Homo sapiens: one gene and its partners. The protein of the gene in region 4 interacts with the protein of the main gene of each other region in a pairwise test. Each region holds a gene or a part of one and is shown on either strand. Other genes may lie near its edges. The genes, in order: FMR1, FSD2, CCDC136 and ZNF777.

The links.
Region 1: the proteins of ZNF777 (region 4) and FMR1 interact in a two-hybrid assay, tested with the Homo sapiens proteins (one large-scale study listed by IntAct).
Region 2: the proteins of ZNF777 (region 4) and FSD2 interact in binary tests that used the Homo sapiens proteins (3 or more experiments, as listed by UniProt).
Region 3: the proteins of ZNF777 (region 4) and CCDC136 interact in a two-hybrid assay, tested with the Homo sapiens proteins (one large-scale study listed by BioGRID).

Annotation. Positions count from the first base shown.
Region 1 is NC_000023.11:147,918,350-147,921,918, reverse strand, and holds part of FMR1 (fragile X messenger ribonucleoprotein 1), read right to left. Parts: intron 1-3,569.
Region 2 is NC_000015.10:82,803,213-82,807,550, forward strand, and holds the start of FSD2 (fibronectin type III and SPRY domain-containing protein 2), read right to left. Parts: upstream 2,858-4,338; 5' UTR 2,754-2,857; intron 1-2,753.
Region 3 is NC_000007.14:128,815,899-128,819,298, reverse strand, and holds part of CCDC136 (coiled-coil domain-containing protein 136), read right to left. Parts: coding exon 3,368-3,400; intron 1,542-3,367; coding exon 1,440-1,541; 3' UTR 1,435-1,439; intron 169-1,434; coding exon of another isoform or gene 1-168. UniProt on the Homo sapiens protein: May play a role in acrosome formation in spermatogenesis and in fertilization.
Region 4 is NC_000007.14:149,451,033-149,454,601, forward strand, and holds part of ZNF777 (zinc finger protein 777), read right to left. Parts: intron 3,206-3,569; coding exon 3,079-3,205; intron 81-3,078; coding exon 1-80. UniProt on the Homo sapiens protein: May be involved in transcriptional repression. Inhibits cell proliferation through CDKN1A/p21 induction by down-regulation of NIBAN1/FAM129A at low cell density.

The DNA of each region.
Region 1 (3,569 bases), on a different chromosome or scaffold from region 4:
ACGTTAAATTAACTTGTGAGCTTAAAGATAGTTTTTGTTTTTAGTTAAATTTTACAGTGATACCAAACGTTTTATGTGTTTATGAATAAAATAGAACTTCAAATGAAGGTCAGTTTTTGAAGATCATTTTATTCATTAAGCACATCTATATTGCCACCTTGTATGTGCTATACCCTAGAGATAAACATAGCTAAAACACTAAACATGAGAAAAAATTCTCCACAGATTTCAACATCTCGAAAAATAGACAAGTATACTGGAAATTACAATGTGGTAGTGAGTGCAAAGCTGGACGTACATTTTAGGTAGAATTACTGAAAACTAAGAAAATTGTTCCAGAACCATATATCAGCCATATATTGTAACCTACCTTTCTCTCCTTAAAATCTTAGAATACCAATAGTCAATGATTAAATATAACCTCAAATCTATCTATCTATCTATATATATATATATACGCACACACAAATATACTAAACTTTCTTTAACAATCATATGCTGCAAACAACACTAAAAAGTCCAGTTACTAGAGTTGAATTAAGTTCTCAATCTCACAGTACTTGTAGAAAAAATATATAAAGTCCAGAGGTTTAGATCTTTTAAATCTGATGACACAATTGTTAGTAATCTACACAAAGACAGACAAAATAGCTAATTATCAAGAATTCTTTAATCAGCATGCTGTCTGTAACTTTATAAAATTAACCTTTTAATAGGTACAGAAAAGGAAGGTTTTTGTTTTGTTTTGGACAATTAGAAGAATAGGACAAAGCATAAAGAAACCCAAAGGCTTTATATCTTAATTTATTTTAAAAGGGCTTGGGGAGATTTAAGCTTCTTACTCAAATTTATTCTGTATGTTTCTCCCCTTCAGTGGTTTCTCCCTGCCTGCAGGACCATAGCCAAACTCCTTCTCCCGCTGTAAAAGGCTCTACAGGAGCTGTCCTCCCCAGCCCCACCACTTCTTCAACTTTATCTTTCATATCCTTAGAATTTGTGACCCAACAATGCTAAACTACTTGTGCCATACTCTGTAGTTTCTGGGCCTCTCTCCATTCCTTCTTTCCTATTGTCCTTCCCCTCTTTTTACATAGCTATCTCTTACTGGTCTTCCAGATTTCAGTTCAGATGTCAACTTCAACGGGAGAACTGAGAAGTCTAGGTTAAATTCCTGTCCTCTGCATTCTCATAGCATCCTATGCTTATCCCTACAATAAACTTACCCCACTCTATTATTATAGCCCATTTTCTCACTAACAGTAAGTTTTCTGAGGGTGGTGTCAGGTTTTACTTCATTTACGGATATACTGCAGAGTGTCTAGTATGAACTCAGTGAGTACTTATCAAATAGATCATTGCCTAAGAGGTTCCTATCCCAGCCTTAGGGAAAAGGTATGTGTGTGGGTGATGGTGGTAGGTTGATAAGACAAAGGAAAACATACTGAAGAAGGTGAGGTTCCTACTGACCCCTTAAAGGATAAGGAAGTACTAGCTAAACAAAAGAGAGTGGAGGATGGAGAGGCATTCCACTAAGCCTACGGGGCAGCAGGCATAAAGGTTTAGACAGTGAGAAACAGCTGGGTTGTGGCAGAAATAATAAATCCTTTGTCAACAAAGAAGCCAAGACAATTCAATGGGGAAAGTATAGTGTTTTCAAAAAATGAAGCTGGGACAAGTGGACACCCACATGCAAAAAGAATACGTTTCAACCTTTACCTCATACTGCATACAAAAAAAAATCAATGAATATGCATCAAAGACCTAAATATAAGAGCTAAAATTATAAAACTCTTGGGAGAAAACACAGTAGTAAATCCTCATGACGCTGAATGTTTGATATCCATATTGGATAGTGAGACAATAACTAGTTCGGATTAAGACCATTCTCTAACTTCGGTGTCCTCAGTAAATGGCATAGTTTCTGGTATATAGAACATGCCCGATACATGTTTTTAAAAACAAATGGTTCAATGCAGATGTCTTTGTAAACAAATATGTCTTCAAAGGCCTATGATATAAAAAGATTATTTTAAAAAATGAAACTTCCCAAAATATCAAATTAAAGCATATGGAGTGAAGCATTAATTAGCTGCTCTTAAGAAAAACTATGGAAGCTGAGACAGGGCCCTGGAAAACACTGATACAGAAGCAACTTAAACAGAGATACCAAGCTTCTTCAATAATGCTTAAATAAAAGTAAAGCTACGCTAAAAGAAAGCTTCCTTGTAAGATCAAGGTGGACTATAATGGCATCCATATGTTGTGCTATACCCAAGGTGGCTAAATAATTATTTTTAAGTTAAGCATGGGTATATACCCTTATAGTTAGTTACTGGTTCAAAAGGGGAGAAATCAACATTTTCTTATCATTTTGATCTTGCTTATTTTTACTCAGCTATATTTAAATGACCAATATTTTCTACAGCATATTTTGAGAACTCTAGCTTAATACTGCCAATGATATTTTAGAATTATTAGATTTCATAAGGGTGCATGCCCCAGTGCTTCAAGGGATTGTTTGCCTCACTATTACTTCAACAGAGAGGCCTAATTTTGAGTTAGGTTGCAGGAACTGGTCACTCTTAGGCTCTTATTTCTATAGGTCGTAAAAATTATGGAGAATGGGAAAGAGGACTCTCCTGGCCCCGATTTCTCCCTTGTCTTTACAGGATGGCTAATAACAAATTAACAGTTTGCTTTTTGGGGGTGCTATTAGATTATTAACTAAAACTAAGACACCTATTAGGAAGTAACTGACCCCTTATTTACAAAGAAGGGCCACTGCTTCTGTGTTCATCCTTGTTTAAGGTTTCATAATGTTTATACATCTTGGCAGTAATTAACATTAGTTCCTTACTGTATATTACATGCTAAAAATGTTGTCCTTTAATCAGCTATTAGAACCTTGTTACAGCTAGGTAAAGAAATGTTCTAAGTAAATCAAGTATCTACCCAAGACTACTGCCCTTGTCTAAAACTATGCCATCTACCATAGTAGCCACGGGTCATGTGCGACTACTTACATTAAAATTAAATAAAATTAAAATCAGTCTCCAATTCACTCTTGCAACATGTCAAGTGCTCAATAGCTACATATGGCTTAAGGGCTACTGTAGTAGACAGACCCGATTTAAAACATTTACAAATGTTGGAGACTGTTTTCAGACTCATCATAAAAGCACTATAATATCAGCCTTATTACTACATTGCTATATTTTGTTTTTTTCTCTTTGCCTAAAAGTTATTGCCCAGTTGAATCATACTTATCTACATTTGCTTATTTCCTAAAATCAAATATTCTCTCAAAGGAGGAAGATCTGCAAGTGCTGTAGCTATTCAAAAAAAAAAAAAAAAAAAAAAAAAGCTTTTGCAGGCTCTGAATGCATTTCCGGATGATTTCCGGATGTAGTGTCAGAGTGTCAGAAATGGTTTGAGTAATCATCAGAGCCCAACAGGGCCACTGCCTTTGAGTTAATGAGGCTTATCTGTAAATGGATGTTTGCATGACTTTTTCAAAATCAGTCATTTTAAGTGAATACAGAAGGTATATAATACCTTTGGTTGCTGCT
Region 2 (4,338 bases), on a different chromosome or scaffold from region 4:
TCTTGCTTGAAACCCTCCTGTCTCTACAGTCTGCTGACTGCGCGCACCATGGTCCTTCCTCAGGGGTGTCCCTGCCCAGGATAGCAGCATAGCTTATACAGCATATGTTGCTTTGTTCAGGCAGAAGTGGTACATCTGCACATCGTGCATTCTGAGGGCTCCATTACTGGCAAGTCCCAACTCTCCTGGGCACCAGGGATCCCCCACCCCATGCCATAGCTCTATACTCCCCAAGCAGCCCCACCTTCCCTAGCGGTAACCCTCTGTTCCTTCTGGCCGCGCTCAGGGTCTTCCATGTGAGACTCACCCTAGGCCCTGGCTCAGACTGTCCTGCCTGCTGAGAGCTCCCACTCTTCCCTATCTCACCACTGCTTCTTAAACCCCATACTCATCCAACATGGCCCTCCATGAAGTCCACTGCATTGCTACTATCCATGAATGAGAGCATGACATCCACCCCCTCCAGCACCAAACCAGAGACCAGAAGCTCATCCTTGACACCCCCAATCTAATTAATAACTAATTCATGCTGATTCTGACTCTACCTCTTGAATCTCTAAGTAATATCCCTTTTCCTGTCCCCTCTCCCTGCTCCCCAAGATCACTGCCCTCTGGATTCAGAGAGTCCTGTGTTTGCATTGTTTCTGCCACATCCTGGAAGTATGACTTCAGGAAAATCATCTCTCTAGGCCTAACTTTAATGGACTATAAAACAGCTCTATTAACAGTGTCTACCTCATAAGGTTGGCATTTAGATGAAATAACATAATGTACTTTATGCATAGTACATAGCTTAAAGTAAGTCCTCAGTAAGTGTTAGCTGCTGTTATTGTTGTTGTTCTTACTATCATTATCATGATTCCTACCTTAGTATCTCCCACCTGGGCTAGAAGCCTTCTACCTAGTCACTCATGGAGAGTGACCACAGCAGTGTGGAATCATCCATGGCTACTGTGGGAATATTTGTCCCTTGAAAACAGCCGATGATGAAAGAAGGCACCAAGCAGAACAGCCTCATAACCACGCACAGACATCAGCTATGAGATCATTCCTCTCCCAGGGGGCCCAGGCAGAGATATGGTATTCTAGGGATGGAGGTCCCTTGGAGAGCATCTAATTCAATTTCCTGATTTTATTCAGCAGGTCATGGATGTTTAAAAAAAATTCCTGATTTTAGGATGGCAAAACTGAGATCTTGTGAGGATAAAGGACTTGCTTATAGCCAATTTTCTTTTACAAAAATGTATCTGGGCTACTCTGTATTTAGCCCTGTGCTTGAATCCAAGCTTTTCACCTGACACACAACCAGTCAGGTGAAGAGCTTGGATTCAAACCCAGGTTTCCATTAAATCACACCATCTACAGACAGAGGAGCAGTTCACTAAAATAATGCTTACATTCCCATGTGCTACCCAAAGGGAAATAGCCAGGATTCTGTATGACCAATAAATCATCATGAGAAATTATTTCAACCAGAAGCTGGAATGTGAAACACCAAGTTGAACTGTCAGAAGACTGGAAAACACTTAGTGCAAATACAGATAAGAACACATGCTTTCAAGCTGGCACTTGCCCTTCGAACACACAACACAAAGTGGTCTCAACACAAACTGGCTCAGTGTCAAAGTAGGAATTTTGCAACACACCCTACAGTTAACAGTCACTTTTCCCCTCAACACCTAGACTCTTTCTTAACAAAATCAGGATTTGGGGAGAAAGGAAAGTTGACAATAAACTGTCATTTTATAAATGGTGAAACTAAAGCTTAGAGAAGTAAAGCAATTAGTCATAGTCCATTATGAATGTCTTTGCTGGATACCCTTTCCTCTATGCCAAGGGAAGCAGTTAAAAAAAATAAAAAAGATGTTTGTCTAAGGCTTATATGGGAGGTGTATCCCTGTGCATTACTTAGAAAAGTCCCCCAATAATTTTTTTTTTTTTTTTTTTTTAGAGACAGGTTCTTGCTATGTTGCCCAGACTGGTCTTGAACTCCTGGGCTCATGCAATCTGCCACCTCACTTGGCTTGTTTATTAACCTTTTATGGATCATGGGCATATCTACTGAATCTACTGAAACCTGTGAATTCTCTTCCCAGAAGTGATTCCATAAGGGCAGGAACATAACTTTGCCTATAATTTTAGCTCTTCCATGCAGCCCTTGGCAATTCCTGAGCCACAGCAGTGAAAGAAAGCTTGCCTTAAAGTGTTACAGTGATATGAAATGATTCAAATCAGCTTTGCAGACACTGCCCGAACCTGAAAACTTTCTATAGGAGGAGGCTGTATGCATAACAAGTGAAAAATAATTACGATGCTGTTTTTTAGTATTTGAATCAATGCATGAAGTTATTATTTTTCAGCATGTACACACAGATTAAATAAAATGTATTTACAACACAATAGTATAGCCAGATGATATTCAACATCTATATTTCCAAACTGTTCTACCAAATGGTTCTAACTAATGGGTCCCAGCACTACAGATATCCTAAAGACACATTATAAGAATCACCAGCCCCTGTCTGCCTTCATCAGAGCCTCTCACATCCTGTCCCAACATCATGTTCAGTTAATGCGAATTCTTGCTTTAAGAAGGCACAGAAAACATTTACACTATTTATTGTAATTTAAACATCTGCAATTTACCATGATATCTCTTCCCACCTACAGGAAAGATATTGCATTAATATTGCAGCATTGAGTTTCTAATAATACAATTTGCATTGGAAGAATATGACTACCCCAAAACTTGCCTGCTAAGCGTCCATAAATGCTTCCTTTAACTCAGAGGACCTGGAGTTCTGCTAGAAAATTGAATCTGTGTTCAGCAGGCTTTCCTTCCTAGTGACCTCTGCATGCCCCACAGGCTACCCCTGCCTATTTTACACCAGAGTTCTGCAAGTGGGGCACCAAAGCTGGATGGTAACATGAGCTGGCTGCAGCCACAAATAGCAACAGGCCTGCCATGAGTGAAGGTCCAAATATAGACCTGCTGTGGCTGAGTTGCCACTTCTTACTACTCAAGTGTCACCAGGAGAGGTCACATGCCGTGCTCTGAGTTACTTTCTGTGCTGTGAGGGGTTTTAGACTTGTGGCTCTACCATGGGTCTCAGATGGCTGGTCATGTGGAGAGGGCTGGGGACTGTCACGGCAAGACCAGGAAGAAGATTCCTTTTTTTTTTTTTTAAGTGAATGAGTTTCTAAAATTATATGCAAAATTATGTCTGTGTCCTTATAGAATCACTTCCGGGAAGAGAACTCACAGGTTTCAATAGATTCTCAGAGGTGCTCATGAACCATACAAGGTTAAAAAACATTTTGGGGGCACTTTTCTAATCAAAGCACAGGACACACTTCCCATATAAGCCTTAAGCAAACATTATTATTTTTTTTTTTTACTTGCCATGGTATGGCATAGAAATGGGACTATCCAGCCAATACATTCCTTATGGACTATGATTGACTATTTCTCTAAGCTTTAGTTTAATAATTTATAAAATGACAATTTAGTGTTAATGTTCTTTTCTTCCAAAATTCTGACTCTGTTAAGAAGTTGAAAGAGTCTAGGTGTTGAGGAAAAAAGTGAGTGTTAACTGTGGGTGTGTTGCAAAATTCCTACTTTGATGCTGAGCCCACAGACCAGCATAACAGTATAATCTCTCTCTCCTCTCTCTCTCTCACATGCACGCACGCACACACACACACACACACACACAGTGTAATAGTCAGAGTTGTCCAGAGAAACAGAACCAATAGAATGTATACATATATGGAAACAGATTTATCATAAGGAATTGACTCATGTAATTATGAAGACCAAAAAGTCCCAAGATCTGCAGTTAGTAAGCGGAAGATCCAGGAGAGCCAATGGTGTGGTTCTAGTCCAAAGGCCAGCAGGCTCAAGACCCTGGAGAGCCAATGTTTCCATTTGAGTTGGAAGGCAGGAAAAAAACCCATATTCCCACTTGAAGGCAGTTAGGCAGGAAGAATTCCCTCTTATTCAAGCTTTTGTTCTATTCAGACCTTCAATCGATTGGATGAGGCCCACTCACATGAGGGAGGGCAACCAGTTTTACTCAGTCTACTAACTCAAAGGTTAATCTCATCCAGAAACACCATCACACACACACACCCAGAATAATGTCTGACTAAACACCTGGTGACCCAATCAAGTTGACACATTAAAATTAACCATCATACATATATATACATATGCTATAGACAGTTTATATTCCCCTAAAATTCCCATGTTGAAACCAAATCCCCAATGTGATGGTATTTGGAAATGTGGCCTTTGGGAGGTGATTAGGTCATGAAGGCAAGCCCTCATGAATAAAA
Region 3 (3,400 bases), about 21 Mb from region 4:
GCACAGGTGCATGTTGGGGCCTCCTGGAGCTCTGGGGATAACAGGCCCCACCAGGAGAACCCTTCACCAGCAGTTCTTCCTCTCCCTCTGATTGGGCCGGGCTGGGTCTGAGGTAGTGGAAGGCTGTGGCTGAACTCTTTGGGTTTCACCCGTAGTGCCTTAAGACTTCTGGGGGGTGACAGGGGAGAAACAGTCATAGAGAGGGGCCCCGTCACTAAAGCAGTTGTGGACCAGGGAGTAAAGGGAATACCTAAAGTCAAGAAGAAAAGTGGAGGCTTGAAGATGAGTAACAGGAAAGCTGGGGAGGGAGCAGGAGGAAGGACAGAAAAGGAAATGGAGAGAAGTGCCACCAACAAATCCTCCAGTTGCCACCCTGTGCATTAAGCTACATTCCGTTCACAGGAATGTGAGAAGAGAGGGGAGTGGAGGGGGAGGCAGGGAAAGCATGAGAGAGGAGCCAATGCAGGACTAGAGAGAATACCTTATGGGTTCCAGAAGGCAGGTGGAACCCCAGGCTTCTACCTTAGGCCGTAAGACCACATTCTGCCTCCTGAATTTGGTATCCTGTTGACAGTGTACATTACATGTGTGGGAGCTGACAGGAAAGTGGCCAGAATATATCAGTCTTGATTTCCTGAGAACACACATCTCTGGCTAGTAGAAACTTTTCACTAATACCTCATTCTCTCCAGAAAACCTAGCTGGGGAAGCCAATTACCATGGAATCTGGCCCACAAAATAGATAAATAGATAACTAATAAAATTTCCCGGCATTCTGTTCTGACTTTTCCGGAGACTGGAAGTCCAGAAGCAGAGAACTGTTCAGTAGAAAGAGCAGAATACAGTAGGGGTTCGGTTCCATTTCACCAAGCTTGATGGACCAGCTTAGGTTGCCCTCCTACCAATGCCCCTGGGAGGATCATGAGGATCAGAGCTCTTCAGAGCTCCTCTCTCTCCCAACAGAAGAGGGATTCCTTATTTTGCCATCTTGGGTAGCAACAGTAGTGAGAACTTGGCTCCGGAGTTAAACCAAGACAAAGAGAGTCCAGGCCAGCCTTGCAAATATCAGCTCATCAGAAGTGGTCAGGCTAGCCATCACACAGAGGATGAGCGGGGATAAAGAAGTAGTGAGGCAGCTTTGACAGCAGCAACCAAGCTGGGCTTATCCAAGTTTTTCCCAGCCAAGGATTGAAACAAACCATGTCTCTGGCAAGCATTCCAACCTCCTATGCATTACGAAGACATGCTCAGAGATGTCAGAGGCTTTGCAGTAGCCCAAGGAAAAGTCAGAACTAAAACTCAGACCTGAGCATCACCTATTATAAAATGGCACAAGCAAGAAGCAAGCAGCTGGGAGAAAAGGGAAAGAGGAGAGGCCAGGGCAACCTGCACCCTCCCTCTATCCCTCAGAAGGAGAGGAAGCAATACCAGTACCTGCATTAGGACGACGTCTCAGCCCACCAGCACCAGAGCAAAGCCGAGATGACCACCAGGCCTACAAGAGGCAAGGAGAAGATGGGGGGATTGGGGGTAGGGGATGACTGCAACACACCAAAATGAGAAAGAAGCACGAGGAGAGACCAGGAGATGTGAGACATAAACGCATGGATCCAACAGATAATGAAGATGAGAAAACAAAGGGAAAAGAGAAAGGAATCAAGAGGTTAAAAAACAGGTAAGCTAGAGCAGTTGCATGTCTTTTCTGCTGCCTGGGCCTTGGTTCTTTCCACCGGCAGTCTGCAGGAATTGCAAAATTGAATGGGTTAAGCAGCAGCTAGGTCCAAGTCAGGCGGTGAGTCCAGTTTTCTTTCTGTCTCGTCACATACCTCTCATATCCTGTCAAGCAGGAGGTATCTGCATCTAGACCTTTCTTGTGACTTTTCCTAGGTCACTCTAGGAAGAGCCAGTCTTCTACCAGGTCACCTGTCCCTTTGTTCTAGCCTGCTTTCCATTAAGTTTCTTAGTATTTTGGGCTCTGGTCCCTTAGATCCCCTAGGAATCTAATGATATCATTGTAAGACAACATGCACCGAAACAAACTGACAATGGAGAAGGGCTAGTTCTTTCACTGCAACAATCTTCCAGAGAGAAACCGATTTTGCAAGGTGGTAATACACATGCCCTAGAGCTGCCTGCAAAAGACGCAGGACCCACGGGGCAAAGGGATCTCTCCATATATAGAAACATAGAATATATTTGAAGTAGAAAAATCAGGTCTAGCTTTAGAAATGTGGCACCGAAGGTAAAGACATCTGTGAGGCTCTGAACCAGCACGTGGTGGAATATGATGAGCTCAAGGAAACATGATAGTGGGAGGGGCTGCAGTGGTTCCGACTTTCCACATCTTAGGTAATGGTCCCCTGGCACAAGGTAAGCAGAGCACTGCACACTGGATCCTTAGCCAGTGCTGAAGACCAAATTGCTGGAAATTCCAGATATCCTCAGAGTTGACTGGATAATCCCACCACAAGAGGCTTTTTTTCTTTACCTCTGTTTAGAACAGAAAGAACCTGTAATGTAAGCTGAGGACTTACACAGGAAATACTCTAACTCTGTAGGGACTCTGAGCCCTGAGTTAAGTCCAGGGCAAGAATTCAGTTGCTACATACCTGCAGAGACGTACCAGTTATTAAAATATGGAAGTACTTCTATATTGTTGGTAAGTTACCTCTGGCATTCTGGCATATATATCCCAGGATACCTCCACCCCAACCTCTCAATGATCTAGCAACTGAAGGGTTAAGGCTAGGGATGGTCTCCTTGGACTAGTCTATGCTCCTACTGTACAGATGTGAAATATTTTCACTATCACTCTTGATCACTTCCAGGCCCCACCTTCATGTCCTGTGATATACAGAATCCAGGGGGCAACATGAGCCTACAAAGAAGAGATTATCCCCTGACACACCCCTAACAGCAACAACAAAGGTTAAACCTAACAGGGCACCATAGGAAAACTGGACTGAGTGACTTGCCCAGACCGACAGAAATGGCCTGAAGTAGACTTCACACTGTCAATGTCCTTCCTGCAGTGCCAAAAGAGGGATGAGGGAACACTCCCGACATAAGGAAGGTAACAAAGGCTACTACGTAAATGAAAGGACTCCAGAGACCCCACGCTGGTTCCCAGAAAAGGTGGTCATTGTGAGGTGGTTCCACAGCAAACGGGGCTGAGCCCATGATTTCGTGCAGACAGACTGCTCTCATCTCCCACTTCTGCATCTCCACCTCCCCGAAGGGTTGTGCCTTAGAGCGCGAGGCCTCCACTCCTGGAGATATCCATCCTTGGCAGGGCCACCCATTAACTCGGAGTTATCTGAGCCCAAGACCCCACTTCCCACTTGATCTAGGCTTTGGCTCTGGTTACCTTTTTGCTCTCGGAAAGTCTGAGGGGGTTATT
Region 4 (3,569 bases):
AGAGTCTTCCTGCTCCTGCATGGTGGGCCGCTCCCCGCGCTCCATCTGTGACATGAGGTCTGGTTTGGAAATTGCATAGTCTAGGCAGAAGAAAGGGAAAAAAATATGCTCTGGGATGAGGTTGCACTGGATGTTGTTAAGGTATCATCTGTGGGCACGTGATTCCAGGAGCAGCTCCTCGACTGGAGACCACAATGGAAAACCGCCAAGTCTCCCCTTCTTTTCCCAAGAGCCCACTGTGGGTGTGGGGGTGTGGGTGTGTGTGTGTGGCGGGGGGTAGAGGGATCGTGTTGCTCAGAGGTAGTCAAAACCTGCCCAGGTTTTCATGATAAAGGCAGAAGATATTTGAAATTTTGTAAGGTAAAAAACTAATCCTGGCCGGGTGCAGTGGCTCACACCTGTAATCCCAGCACATTGGGAGGCTGAGGCAGACGCATCACCTGAGGTCAGGAGTTCGGGACCAGCCTGGTCAACATGGTGAAACCCCATCTCTACTAAAAATGCAAAAAATTAGCCAGGCGTGGTGGCGGATGCCTGTAATCCCAGCTACTCGGGAGGCTGAGGCAGGAGAATCACTTGAACCTGGGAGGCAGAGGTTGCAGTGAGCCAAGATCACACACTGCACTCCAGCCTGGGCAACAAGAGTGAAACTCCGTCTCAAAAAAAGAAAAAAACAAAAAACTAATCCTGATAAAAATCTAAAAGCCATAAAATATCGATAGATTTTCTTACATAAAATAAGTCTGCAGTTCTTTGGAAATAAAGTTAAAAGATGAAGAAACTTGGAGGAAATATTATACATATATATACATGTTTGACATATGGCAAAGGGTTAATATCCATAGTTATACATAAAGAACTTCTATAACTAGTAAAATTGCAAAGCTATAAATAGGTAATTCATAGAAGAAATATGAATGGCCAATAAATATATAAAAAGATGCACAAGTTCACTGGGCACAGTGGCTCACGCCTGTAATCCCAGCACTTTGGGAGGCCGAGGCGGGCGGATCACAAGGTCAGGAGATCGAGACCATCCTGGCTAACATGGTGAAACCCCGTCTCTACTAAAAATACAAAAAATTAGCTGGGCACGGTGGTGGGCACCTGTAGTCCCAGCTACTCGGGAGGCTGAGGCAGGAGAATAGTGTGAACCCGGGAGGCGGAGCGTGCAGTGAGCCGAGATCGCGCCACTGCACTCTAGCCTGGGCAACAGAGCGAGACTCCGTCTCAAAAACAAACAAACAAACAAACAAACAAAAAAAGATGCACAAGTTCACTAATCATCAAAGAATACATATTTAAATAAATGAAGTAGGCTGGGCGTGTGGCTCACGCCTGTAATCCCAGCACTTTGGGAGGCCGAGGTGGCTGGATCACAAGGTCAGGAAATCAAGACCATCCTGGCTGACACGGTAAAACCCTGTCTCTACTAAAAATACAAAAAAAAATTAGCCAGGAGCAGTGGAAGGTGCCTGTAGTCCCAGCTACTCGGGAGGCTGAGGTAGGAGAATGGCATGAACCTGGGAGGCGGAGCTTGCAGTGAGCCCAGATCGTGCCACTGCACTCCAGCCTGGGCAACAGAGCGAGACTCTGTCTCAAAAAAAAAAAAAAAAAGTAAATAAATAAATAAATAAGGTATCATTTTTCACCTATAAAAAAGGCTAATATTTAAAATAGAAGAACATCAGCTCAGGCCAGGGTATGAAGTGGCATTTTCACACACCCTTGCAGAAATATCAACTGGCTCAGCCTTCTGGAGGGCACCAGGCAGTAGCCATAAAACTATAAATGTGCATCCTGTTTACTTGGCAATCCCACTTCTTAGTATCTGTCCTACTGTAACACACAGAAGTGCACAAATACACAGAAATGTTTATCATAACACTTTGTAACAGTCAACCTACTCTTCAGCAACAGCAGACAGGTCAAAAGCCCTAATGGTTCACGTGGAACACTGCACTGTCTTTCCAAGGAGTCCTACGTGTGCTGACATGGAACACTCTCTATCCCCCTACATTAGGTAAAATAAGTAAACGGGCCCCTCTGTGCAAACCCCAAACTGCATGTGCCTCAGTGCATGTATCATGCTTATATCTGCACATGCAAAAAAAGATGAGAGAGAACACAGGCCAAAGTGTTCATGGTGGTTACCTCTGGGGAGTGGTACTGGTGAATGGGTGGTGGTTGCTCTTAATTATATAAATCATTTAAATTGTTGAATTTTCACAATTAAAAAACACAATTAAAAAAAGAAAAAAGAATTTTAAAAGGAAGGGAATGTATCCTATGGAAAGGTATGTATAAAATTATCAATTCTAGCTGGAATCAAAGTTTCTATGTGACAACACATTTAAATGTTTAAGATAACGTTTTTTTGTATATACCCAAAAAGTTCTCCATATCAGAGAAACAGATATATATACACACACACATATATATATGTAAGTAAAGTATATTTTTCCAGGTTTTCATCGTTAAATATTCTTAATTAAAATCACAAGAATCTACAGACTTCGGGGTAAGGCAGATCTCCATGAAATAAGCATTTAACCTCCCTGATCACAGCCTCAGTGTTCAGGCACCTGAATCATCGAACAGGAGTGTGAACACCTGTCTTAGCCTCCGCAACATCTTGGCTGTGCAGGTCCAAGGAGATGATACTTGTACAGCACCTCAAATGTGGCTGGTACACAGGAGACACTCAGCACACTTTCCTTTCATTCTTTTTTCCTTCCTTAATAATAGTTTGCTGGACAAACTAATTTATTTAAAAAGGGGTCCCCATGGGGAAAAATATGATGACGGAGAGACCACTGATGTCTAGGTCTTTCTCCTCCTCCTTGCCCCAGCAGCTTCTCTGAGAGTGGGGTCTCAATTTACAAGCCATTCTGGCCTGGGCCGCACTGATGTGTGTGGGTATATGAGGGCGTTTGCTTTAATTTGTTGTGATCTCTACAACTCTGTTCTCCTTGCTTGCAACTATTGGCTCTGCTGGGGTTCAGAACTCCCTAAGTTTATGAATGCACTTTGAGCTGGCGTCCAGGCAGCCCCCAGCGAGCGAAGGCTTCTCCTTACCCATGGAAACCAGGGACTCGTAGTTGCCCCTCATCACGTTCTTGTAGAGCTCCTTCTGCCACTCAGACAGGTTTCCCCACTCCTGCTCCGAGAAGTGCACAGCAACATCATCAAATGTGACAGGGACCTGAAACCACACAATAACTCGGCTCAGACCCGCTGGAAGGCAGTGACAGGCCCACGGCTGGCCAATCCCAAGGCCCAAACTCCTGGCTCTGGGCCTTCACCTAGGACTTTTCTAGAAGTCTGGCCACTGTCCTGGCCCCAAAGAGTGAGGGGCCTGTCTTGTCGGATCCTTTTCCTCCCCTTCAGGATATAATTCTTGCAGCTCTAAAGCATGGTCTGTGGACCAGCAGCAATGGTGCTACCAGGTAACTTGCTCAGACCCCACCTTAGACCTACTAAATAGCTTCTGCATTCAGTAAGATCCCGGGGAGATCCATGTGCACAGTAACATTTGAGACATACCGGGCTAGAGAACAGAGTCTGTT